Regions from separate parts of the Homo sapiens genome. Here region 2 is linked to region 1. The links come from fine-mapping of genetic effects on gene expression. A gene starts in region 1. The other region holds a variant in brackets. All regions are shown on one strand. Distances are from middle to middle.

Region 1 (5,381 bases):
CTGCAGAAGAACCTCACTCAGAGGAAACCGAGTTAGGAGAGAATTTAGTTCCTCTTTTTCTTGCACCAAAAAATAAATTTTATGAATATTTCTCAATTAGTATTTGATTAGGAAAACCTGTAGAGGGCGTCCTTGCACCAAGAGCCATAGAGGTTTGCGCAGAACTAGAAAAAAATGTTAAAACCACTCGCTCCGAGTTAAAGAAAATGCCTATTGTGCTGTGAAATTATTATCTTTACCTGGGTGACACTGGCATTATAACATTAAAGTGTTTTAAAAGTAGCCTAATGTTCATACATTATATACATGAATATTCATAGAAATAAAAAATAATGCAATGTTGGGAAACAGGTAAATATTTTTATTGTAAAGGAAGAATCACTGTGAAGCTTTGGATGCAAATAGACTTAATTATGATTTATTTATCAGTATGAGGTATAAGTTACTAAGAGAATGGGCTTTGAAATCAGAGTGTCTGGGATTTGAACCCTTACTCTCATTTACCAGCTGGATATCCACAGTCAACTTACTGGACTTTTTGAGCCCTCTTTCCTCGTCAGTAAAATAAGAATAATAGTAGTACCTACTTAAGAGTTGTGAGGATTAAGTAAGCACTTAAAATAAAAGTACTTTAAAAATTAAGACACTGCAAGTTCAAATCAGTCATAGACTTCTTGTCTAATTCCTTTTTTCCTTTTTTTTTTTTCTATTGGTTGGTTGTATAGCTGCAAATATTTCCTCATTGGAAATCTATATTCTCAGAACCTAACACTGATTTAACTTGATGCCTGCACATGTCCACCATCTCTTCTGTTGTTTCTGTTTGTTTTTCCCTCTTGAGGCATCTGCTACTCTATAAAGGACTGATTGAAACACCACGCCCAGCCCCAGACATTTGATCCTTGAGGCATTTGTCACAGCTTCGGGTACTAAAGAACAAACACAAGTAAATGAACCTTTTATGAGTCCGAAGGCTAAGTTTTTTAATTAAAAACAAAACAAAACAAAACCCTTTTGCTTCCGTTTTCTTTGTGCATCCGAGGAATTAGGCAGGAGGCAAAAATCAGTTCTTTCTGCTGGGCCAGGTGGATAGGTTATGCTGCAGCCCACTGCCGGCCAAGCATGCTTCTCACAGACGAGGCCAGAGCCTTGGTTTTGCCCCCACGCACCTGTGAATTCGGCAACTTTTAAAAAATTATTTTATTTATTTATTTATATATTTTTTGAGACGGAGTCTCGCTCTATCGCCCAGGCTGGAGTGCAGTGCCACGATCTTGGCTTAATGCAACCTCCGCCTCCCGGTTCAAGTGATTCTCCTGCCTCAGCCTCCCGGGTAGCTAGGACTACAGGCCCCCGCCACCATGCCCAGCTAATTTTTGCATTTTTAGTAGAGACGGGGTTTCACCACGCTGGCCAAGCTGGTCTCGAACTCCTGACCTCAGGTGATCCGCCCGCCTTGGCCTCCCAAAGTGCAGGGATTACAGGCGTGAGCCATCGCGCCCGGCCGAATTCAGCAACTTTTAAAAAATATCAGCAAACGTGAAGATATCCACGATGTTAGAGGAGCCCTACCCCGGAGGGTCAGGTACAGCTATCGTCCAGGGCCCAGGGCACTCTTCCGGGCACTGCCGGGTTATCAGGGAGACAGACGGGAATCCCCAAATGCTGGGTGTCGGGCAAGTACCAGCTGGACGCCCTGCGCCTCGAGCCAAGGCCAGCGCCTGCCATCGGCACCATCGGACAGTCGAGCCTCGAGTTTTAACTGCTTGGGAGCGCGCAAAGTGCCAGCCTATCGCAGAACGGAGCGCATAGGGTTGGCGGAGAGAGGAATCCTACTGGCTGAAAGGGAGACGAAGGGCAATTTGCGCCTTCAGTGAGCGCCGGAGGAGGAACAGGAGTCATCACCTCATCATCATCATCATCATCATCATCACCATCACCATCACCATCATCAGCACTCAGTCAAGCCCAGCGTTGTCTGCTCTCCCCATTTCCCTCCCCCGAAGCCTCCCTTGGCCCGAGGAGGTGGCGAGTGATGTCCCAGGGGTCTCTGAGTGCCCTTCTCCGGGTCCGCCAGCCCTACACGCCCACTTCGCGGGCGCTCCACTGGGCGCACCGCACTGTGAATGCAGCCTCGGGGGTCCCTCGCGGCCCCGCCCCCGGGGGGGCCCCACAGCGCCCCCAAGTGGCGGCCGCCCAGGCCTCGCGGGCCCCACTCCTCGCTCGCACCTCGCTCGCGCCAGCCCTTCCCGCTCTTCTGTTCTCGCTCTATTTGCCCCGCTGACTGCTGGCCTCGCCAGCTTTGCCAGTCTTACGTCTCTGCCGCCCCCACTCCCGCCCGCGCCCCATCTTCTTGCGCGACTCGCGCCCGCTGGTCCCCCCCTCCTCCTCCCGCGTCCTGCCTGCCCCCTCCTCCTGCTCTCGCAGGCTCCTTGGCACCCAGGCCGGGAGGCGACGCGCCCAGCCGTCTAAACGGGAACAGCCCTGGCTGAGGGAGCTGCAGCGCAGCAGAGTATCTGACGGCGCCAGGTTGCGTAGGTGCGGCACGAGGAGTTTTCCCGGCAGCGAGGAGGTCCTGAGCAGCATGGCCCGGAGGAGCGCCTTCCCTGCCGCCGCGCTCTGGCTCTGGAGCATCCTCCTGTGCCTGCTGGCACTGCGGGCGGAGGCCGGGCCGCCGCAGGAGGAGAGCCTGTACCTATGGATCGATGCTCACCAGGCAAGAGTACTCATAGGTAAGGCCCCCGCCTCCAGCGCCTTCCCCTGCCTATGTCCTCCTCTCTCCACTCTTCAAGAAAGAGGGATACCTGCGTTTCTTGTGTTTTAAAACTTAATTTCCACAAAAGAGTGTTCCCCTCTTTTAATTAGATATTTTCCATCTGAAAGCTTATAAACTTCTCTTTTAAGAAACCAAAGCTGATCTAGTGTTCTGATCATGCTGTTGTTAATTTTTATAGCCCTGCGTTTTTAGGTGCACCCGGCATTTTTTTGCGTCGGTTAACTCCATGTCCATCCCTTTTCCCTGAAAGCATGGGTCTGTTGGCATCATTCTCATCATCCACAGAGAAAAATTAATCTTAGTAGCGTTGATGGTACTGAAGGCAGATGCTTGTGAACAGAAATGACCCACACTAATTCTTTGGTTTTCTTTTTGCTTGAAACTTCTGATTTAGATGATTTCAAGTCTACCTGGTTTGATCGTTTTATTATTTTAAAAACCAGGATTTGAAGAAGATATCCTGATTGTTTCAGAGGGGAAAATGGCACCTTTTACACATGATTTCAGAAAAGCACAACAGAGAATGCCAGCTATTCCTGTCAATATCCATTCCATGAATTTTACCTGGCAAGCTGCAGGGCAGGTAAGTTCTGAGAAAATTACCCTTTAATATTTCCACTGCCTTATGGCAGGTGGAAATAGTACTGTATAGTGTGTAGCCTGGTACATTTTACAGTTATTAAGAGAAATTTCTCATCTGATTGCCAAAGCAAATAAAGAATTAATTTCCATTTATTTCAAGTTGCCATATCAATTAATGATCTTCAAAAGAAAAGAACAAGCCTTGTGCCTAAGCCCATTATTTTGATAAGACTCAGTGTCCTGAGGCTGCTGGAAATATAAAGACCTCCAATACCAACATCACTGTGTTTCTGTGATCATTGACATTAAAATTTAACATACTTAAAGGACTCTTTTTGCATAGTAGTTTCTAATCACTTGTGACATTCTTCATACTTTACAACAAATTTTAAAGTTTGTAAGTATTTTTGACATTGTGCACTTTTAAAAAGTCAGTATGTTGAATGTTATTCACTGGAACGTGAATGTTGCATATTTCTGGTAGAAGTTAGACCCAAAAGGTGTCATGTAAGAACGTTATAAAATATTGCAGCCTATGTTTTCAAGTTACCATTTTAAATGCTTTCATATGGAAAAGAAAACTGGAATCTATTTTTTATGAAGAAGCATTCCTTTTATTCCTTAGCACATTAGCATCTTTTATATGTTACCTTTTGTACATTTTTATGGCTTCTAATTTTAGAAAGAAAGAATAAAATGCTTATGTAAATTTAATTTCTTTTGTACAATTGGAGAATTTACTCTAGAGGACAAATGGTAAGCAATGCATTCTTCAGCTTATTAGTTGGTAGAATGTGTCTACTATGAAAATCATTATAATTATAATTAAAACCACATTTTTCGGTCTTTTATTCTAAAGTTCCTTAAATGATTATTTTCAAGAAGAATGTGATACCGAAAACACTTTATAAAAAATAACTATTTTGAATTGAGAAACCACTTTGTTTCCCTCTAATTACCTGTTGTGGTATAGACATGACCTTTTTAGCTGTCTTTTTCCCTTCAAGTCTGTTCTCTTTTTCTTCTTCTTCTGAAATAGATCAAATCTAGAACCTTCAACACTTCCATTGCTATGTGGTTAAAAAAAATTGAGGTTTTGGATTCACTGAGGTTTATAACAGGAAAGTCATCTATTGTTAATACCCCCATTTTGCAGATAGGTTCATCGAGGTTTCCATTGCTCTATAGGGAGATTATTCCTTTTCTCCCTACAAGTCCCTCTTCATAGATACTTCATAAACAATTAAGTTGGGAATATTGTGAAATCAGTAATAAACCAACGAATGGCCTTTCATTTTCTCCTTTTCAGCTGAATCTGTTTACTTATGGCTGACCGCTCATCAGATGGTCATTAACTAAGTGGCCAATTAATTCTATATTTTTGAAAAGACATTTTTTAACCTATACCTTTATGGGTTCGTAAGAATCAATAAAAGGCAGTTTGAACTGCACCCTTCCATCTGAAAGGGTTTGGTAACTGGTTAACTGTAGGAAAAGCAGAAAGTGCCAATAGCTCTCTCGTGCGCACTCTCTCTCTCTCCCCCTCTCCCTCCCTCCTCTCTCTATCTCTTTCTCTCTCACTTATGTTTGTCTGTTGAAGAATAGAATTTGAAGCAAAGGCTTAAATTCCATGTTGCTTTTATCCTATTGCTTAACAGTATAATGCATGTTTGCAAATATTGGCATACTGGTGAGTACAAAATGGACTGACATGTCATACAATCTCAGGAATATGTCCTGCAGGGAATTAGGGAGGAGAGTGGAACTGGCATGAAGAGGAAGTTTGTAATATTTTTTTCTCCTGCTTAAGTGTTGCTCACCTATGTGGATGATCTAATGATGCAGGACAATGTTAGCACCTCAATTAAGCTACCTTTCTCTCTCTACTCATTCGGCTTTGAATAGGTTACCACAACTAACTACATAAAATCTGCTTTCTGGGGAAAGGGTGGTGAGGGGGAAGAATCTACACAATACCAAGCAGCAAGATGCTTTAAAATATTATTTTTTTATGTTTAATATT
Region 2 (5,381 bases), 130 kb after region 1:
GAGCACAGATCATCTGAGGTCAGGAGTTCAAGACCAGCCTGGCCAACATGGTGAAACCCCATCTCTACTAAAAATACAAAAATTAGCCAGGTGTGGTGGCACATGCCTGTAATCCCAGCTACTCAGAGACTGAGAGGCAGGAGAATCGCTCAAACCCAGGAGGTGGAGGTAGCAGTGAGCCAAGATTGTGCCACTGCACTCCAGCCTAGGTGACAGAGCAAGGCTCCATCTCAGAAAAAAAAAAAAAAAAAAAAGACGTGAAAAGACCCTAGGGTCAGATGGAGTGTGGAGAGTTCCAAGAATTGAAAGATCACCAACAAAGCTGGAGCTCGGAAGCTGATGGAGAGATTTCAGATGAAACTAGAATTAGGAACATGAAACATTTTTAGAACTACACTGCAGCTTGAGACTCTTCCTATCCAATCTTCCTTCCTTCCTTCCCTCTCTCCCTCACAGGGGTCCGACCAGCATCTCTGAGTAAAGTCTTCCCTCATCTCCTTCAGCTCCCTCTCCTCCCTCCCCACCAAATTCCTTGCATATCTAATCCTGTCTTGGCATATGCTTCTCACAAGAAGACATAATCAGGTTGCCATTTTGGAAAGATCACTCTGCATGTTGTGTGAAAATGAACTGGAGGAGTGTCGGAGTAAATTTGGGAAGATTTAATAGAAGGTAATACCAATAAACCAGGAAAGACTTAGTGGTGACTTGTATTGGGGCGCGTCAGCCCAGGCTCACATTACGCACGAAAGATACTAGATTTAAAGAGGGATTTCAAGTTTCAGATCCCACCTGCCTCTTGCCTGAGATAGTGCTCCTCACATCCTACCAGAGTGTCTCAAGATCTAAAAGAAGCAGAAAGTATATCTGGAAGGTTTCCATACCTGCAGCTAAACCAAGTTGAGGAAAACAGGCATTGACACCATTGAATTTGGGATGGTTTCCTATAGCTAGTTTTTTTTTTTTAATCGACTTTTATTTTCAGTTCCAGGGCACATAGGCAGGATATGCAGGTTTGTTACATAGGTAAATGTGTGCCACAGCAATTCACTGCACAGATCATCCCATTGTAGCAGGATGAGCCGCAGACAAAACCCCTCAGACACCGAGTTAAAGAAGGAAGGGCTTTATTCAGCTGGGAGAATCGGTGGACTCACGTCTCAAAAACCGAGCTCCCTGAGTGAGCAATTCCTGTCCCTTTTAAGGGCTTACAACTCTAAGAGGGTCTGCATGAGAGGGTCGTGATCGATTGAGCAAGCAGGGAGTACGTGACTGGGGGCTGTATGCACCAGTAATCAGAAAGGAACAGAACAGGACAGGGATTTTCATGATGCTTTTCCATACAATGTCTGAAATCTATAGATAACACAAGCAGTTAGGTCAGGGGTTGATTTTTGACTACCAGGCCCAGGGCGCAGTGCTGGGCTGTCTGCCTGTGGATTCCATTTCTGCCTTTTAGTTTTTACTTCTTATTTCTTTGGAGGCAGAAACTGGGCATAAGACAATATGAGGGGTGGTTTTCTCCCTTACCATCACCCAGGTATTAAGCCCAATATGTATTAGCTATTCTTCTCAAGGCTTTCCCTCCCCACACACCCCTCCCCTGACAGGCCCCAGTGTATGTTGTTTCCCCCATGTGTCCATGTGTTCTCATTGTTCAGCTCCCACTTATAAATGACAACACATAGTATTTGGTTTTCTGTTCCTTTGTGAGTTTGCTGAGGATAGTGGCTTCCAGCTCCATCCATGTCCCTGCAAACAACATGATCTCATTCCTTTTATGCCTGCTTAGTATTCCATGGTGTATATGTACCCCATTTTCTTTATCCAGTCTATCATTGATGGGCATTTGGGTTGATTCCATGTCTTTGCTATTGTGAATAATGCTGCAATGAACATATGTGTGCATGTATCTCTATAATAGAATGATTTATATTCCTTTGGGTATATGCCCAGTAATGGGATTGCCTACAGCTAGTTTTAAAACCATCTACAATTCAGATCGTCTTCAAGGTTTTAGCAGCATGAGATTTTTCAGTGACAGAGATTATAGCATTGCAGTTGGACCACTGTAATCATAGAAGCATCAGCATTCCTACTGCTAACATGGTATTTCAAGAGCTATAAAACTTACAGCATGCTGCAATGTGGCATGCAAAGTTAGCCACAAAGTGTATACATTTCCTAAAAAGACTCAATCACTCCATTCTTAAAAAGCAAAAATGGAAATGTAAGTAAAACTTTGTTTAGAATTCATTTAATTTAAAAAGGGTAACCTCTATTACACAATCAGACTTGGTGAATGCAAACCTTCACATGAAGAAGCAAGGTTTTTCTATAGGTATTCCATCAGAGAACCACTTTAAAAAGTACGTTTGTTGGACTTCTAGAAAACCCAATTGCTTCTCAATTCAGCATTTCCCCTTGAGAGCATTAAAAAGAGCATTTTTATAGGCCCTTATTTTCTTTCTTGGGGGAAAAATATCATCACTATCCCTGATTCTTAAAGATAATAGAGGTACTGAGTTTAATTTCCAAAAAAAAGATGGGAAATGAAGGCAAAAATCCTGACACCCAATGTTCCATACTAATGCTATTGAGTTATTTCTTATTCCCATCAGAGAGTGGACTTTAGAATGAAAACTGAGCCTGCTGTTTTATTTTTCGTTTACATTCATGTGGTGGCAGCATCTTAACTGGTGCTGCTATAG[C/T]TGAATGAGAAGCAAATACATATCAAAGCTCACTTTCCTCATGGGTAGAAAGCTATTTGACTAACAGATTTCAGCGGTGCCTTGGTGACAAGAAAAGAAAAAACCCTCCAAGGATTCTGGAGGAAGTTGAAAGGCAGGAGGTCAGGCTTCCACCTGCAGGTAGAATGAGTGTTTGCCATTTCCTCAAATTCCTTGAGACCACCCACTGGCATGAAGGATGGTGAGCAAAGCCTGGGGAATGAAGACTATCTTTCAAAAGGTGCTTCCTGGGAGATTTAAGGGAGAAAAAGAAAATAATTTGTTGGTTTGTATGTCAGCTAGCAAGGCTTTTGATCATTCAGTTGGGACAGTTCTGCCTGGAAGGGATCAATCTCTTTTTATTCCAAAGACTAACACCAACAGATACAAATCAAAGGAGGTATTCTTTCAACAAAGGAAATTGCAGAAAGGATGCCTAGGCTTAATTAAAATATAACCTTTTGTTTTAAGGACTTTTCTTTCCCTTGCAAAAGGGAATGCACTCTCTGAAGAAGCATATGCCAGCACTGGTGAGATACAGTTCTTCAACAAGTAAGGATCTGTCTACATTCGGGGCACGTCTTGGGGAAGCCTTGAAGGGAATCGTGCCTGGAGTCCCATCTGACTTAACTCATCATCACAGTCCTTCATCACAACATAATGAGTGTTATTACTTCCTCATGTGGCCTGTGGGCTTTGTTAATTAAAGAATGGAAAGGTAAGTAGTTCCAACCTTTTGCTTTTAATTAATCAAAAGATGTGTTTTCCATCTTCGTGTTGCTGGGCAGCAAGTAAAGTATTTAGTCTGCCTTCCAATACCCAGAAGAGTTCCGTGAAAAAAACTCAGCTGCTGTTTTGGGACTGCATAGACTACATAGCAGATGACTGGCTTTATCTTTTCTTTCTAAAGTTTAATTAATTGTATTGGCCAGTCTGCTGCCTACAATGTAATAGTATTTAGAGAAAAAGAAAGTATTTTCTCATATCATCTCATCAGTACAAATAAAGCCTTCTTAAACCAAAAGTTTATATCTTAGAGTTTCTTGGGCATTTACCATAGTGCTAGGTAATTAGGAGACACTCAGCACAAGGAAAGAAGTGGAACTTACATTTATTGAGTGCCTGCTATGCCAAAACTGGTGCTCTTTTTGTTATATTGTCTTGCCTTTCCGCTCATTTGACTTATTAAAACTTCTATCATTAGGGTCATTCCTCCACATTAAAACACTCTCTGCATTTTAAATAGAAACATATACCTGGAGGGAAAACACATTAATCCATGAACAAGCATCATACCTTAGCGAAGACAGTACCTCAGGGAGTGAGCAGGGCACTAGTATATTTCCTTTTGGAGGGAAGTTAGAAAAAGCCCTAAAGCTGGGGTAGCAAATCGGTTTTCTCTAGTGTGCCAGCCCTGTACAATTAGTGTTGCTGCTCCCTGGAGCTCTGCTTTGAGAATCAGGCAGGAGGCAGAGTCTTAGCTCTGCAGGAAAGAGAATTGCAATTGCCTAATGATGTCAGACCTGCTGCATGCTTCAGTTGCTAAAAGGAAAACTTCAGACAAATTAAATTTAACAGGGTCTAATTGAACAAAGAACAATTCACGAATTGGGCAGCCCTCAAAACTAGAACAAGTTCAGAAAAACTTTGGCCTGCAATGTGGTCAGATAGCATTTATGAACAGAAGATGGAAGTGAGGTACAGAGCTCCATTGATTACAGCTGGTGTTTGCCTTATTCAGCATTTGCTTTATGTGAACATGGTGTTTTGAGTTGGCTGCCTGTGACTGACTGAAGCTCAGCTGCTGTGATTGGCTGTGACTCATTTGTGACAAAAGTATATGCCTAAGCCAGGTTTTCAGTTAGTGTGAGTACTAAGTTACATTGCATTTCATTAGTAAGGACTCAGGTATGGAGGCATTCTCAGGTCAAATTTAGTTTAACAATCCCCCCAAATTTAGTTTAACAATGCCACCTCTCAAAACCTGGGGCATTGATACCACTCTCTGTCACCATCATAAACAAACTTATTTGGTCTCAGCATGAAATTCACAAGTCATGACATCACACCAGTTGAATAATTCTTTATGTTCTTGATGATCAAGTCAAAGTGAGACCACTCAACACTCAGTGGATGGCTGCATACAAATATTTAAGACTTGAGAGGATATGGTACACCAGGGGAGCTACTATGATGACTATCAGAAGGACAACACCAAAAATTCCAAAAGCCTGAGGTGTACTCTCTAACAGGAGCCTCTGCCAACCAAATCAATTTGACCCAAATCAAAGTTCAGGCAATATAGGTGTAGCAGGACAAGATGCAGACAAAACCCCTCAGACACCGAGTTAAAGAAGGAAGCAGTTTATTCGGCCGGGAGCATTGGCAAGACTCCTGTCTCAAGAGCTGAGCTCCCTGAGTGAGCAATTCCTGCCCCTTTTAAGGGCTCACAACTCTAAGGGGGTCCACTTGAGAGGGTTGTGATCGATTGAGCAAGCCAGGGGTACATGACTGGGGGTTGCATGCACTGGTAATTAGATCGGAACAAAACAGGACAGGGATTTTCACAGTGCTTTCCTATACGATATCTGTAATCTATAGATAACATAACTGATTAGGTCAGGCATCGATCTTTAACTACCAGGCCCAGGG

The links.
Region 2: its variant is fine-mapped to the expression of WIF1 in nasal epithelium (TOPMed, PIP above 0.99).

What each region holds. Positions count from the first base shown.
Region 1 is chr12:65,118,395-65,123,775 of GRCh38, reverse strand. It overlaps WIF1 (Wnt inhibitory factor 1), which reads left to right and starts at 2,471. Exons shown (of 10, transcript NM_007191.5): 1 at 2,471-2,732; 2 at 3,220-3,359. The coding sequence starts at 2,585. RefSeq lists a silencer at 2,151-2,310.
Region 2 is chr12:64,990,343-64,995,723 of GRCh38, reverse strand. It overlaps LINC02231 (long intergenic non-protein coding RNA 2231), which reads left to right and starts at 3,433. Exons shown (of 4, transcript NR_146276.1): 1 at 3,433-3,447. LOC107984522 (a long non-coding RNA gene) reads right to left here. Exons shown (of 2, transcript XR_001749177.2): 2 at 5,078-5,381. RefSeq lists an enhancer at 2,570-3,096. The variant C/T (reference allele first, on the strand shown) is at 2,712.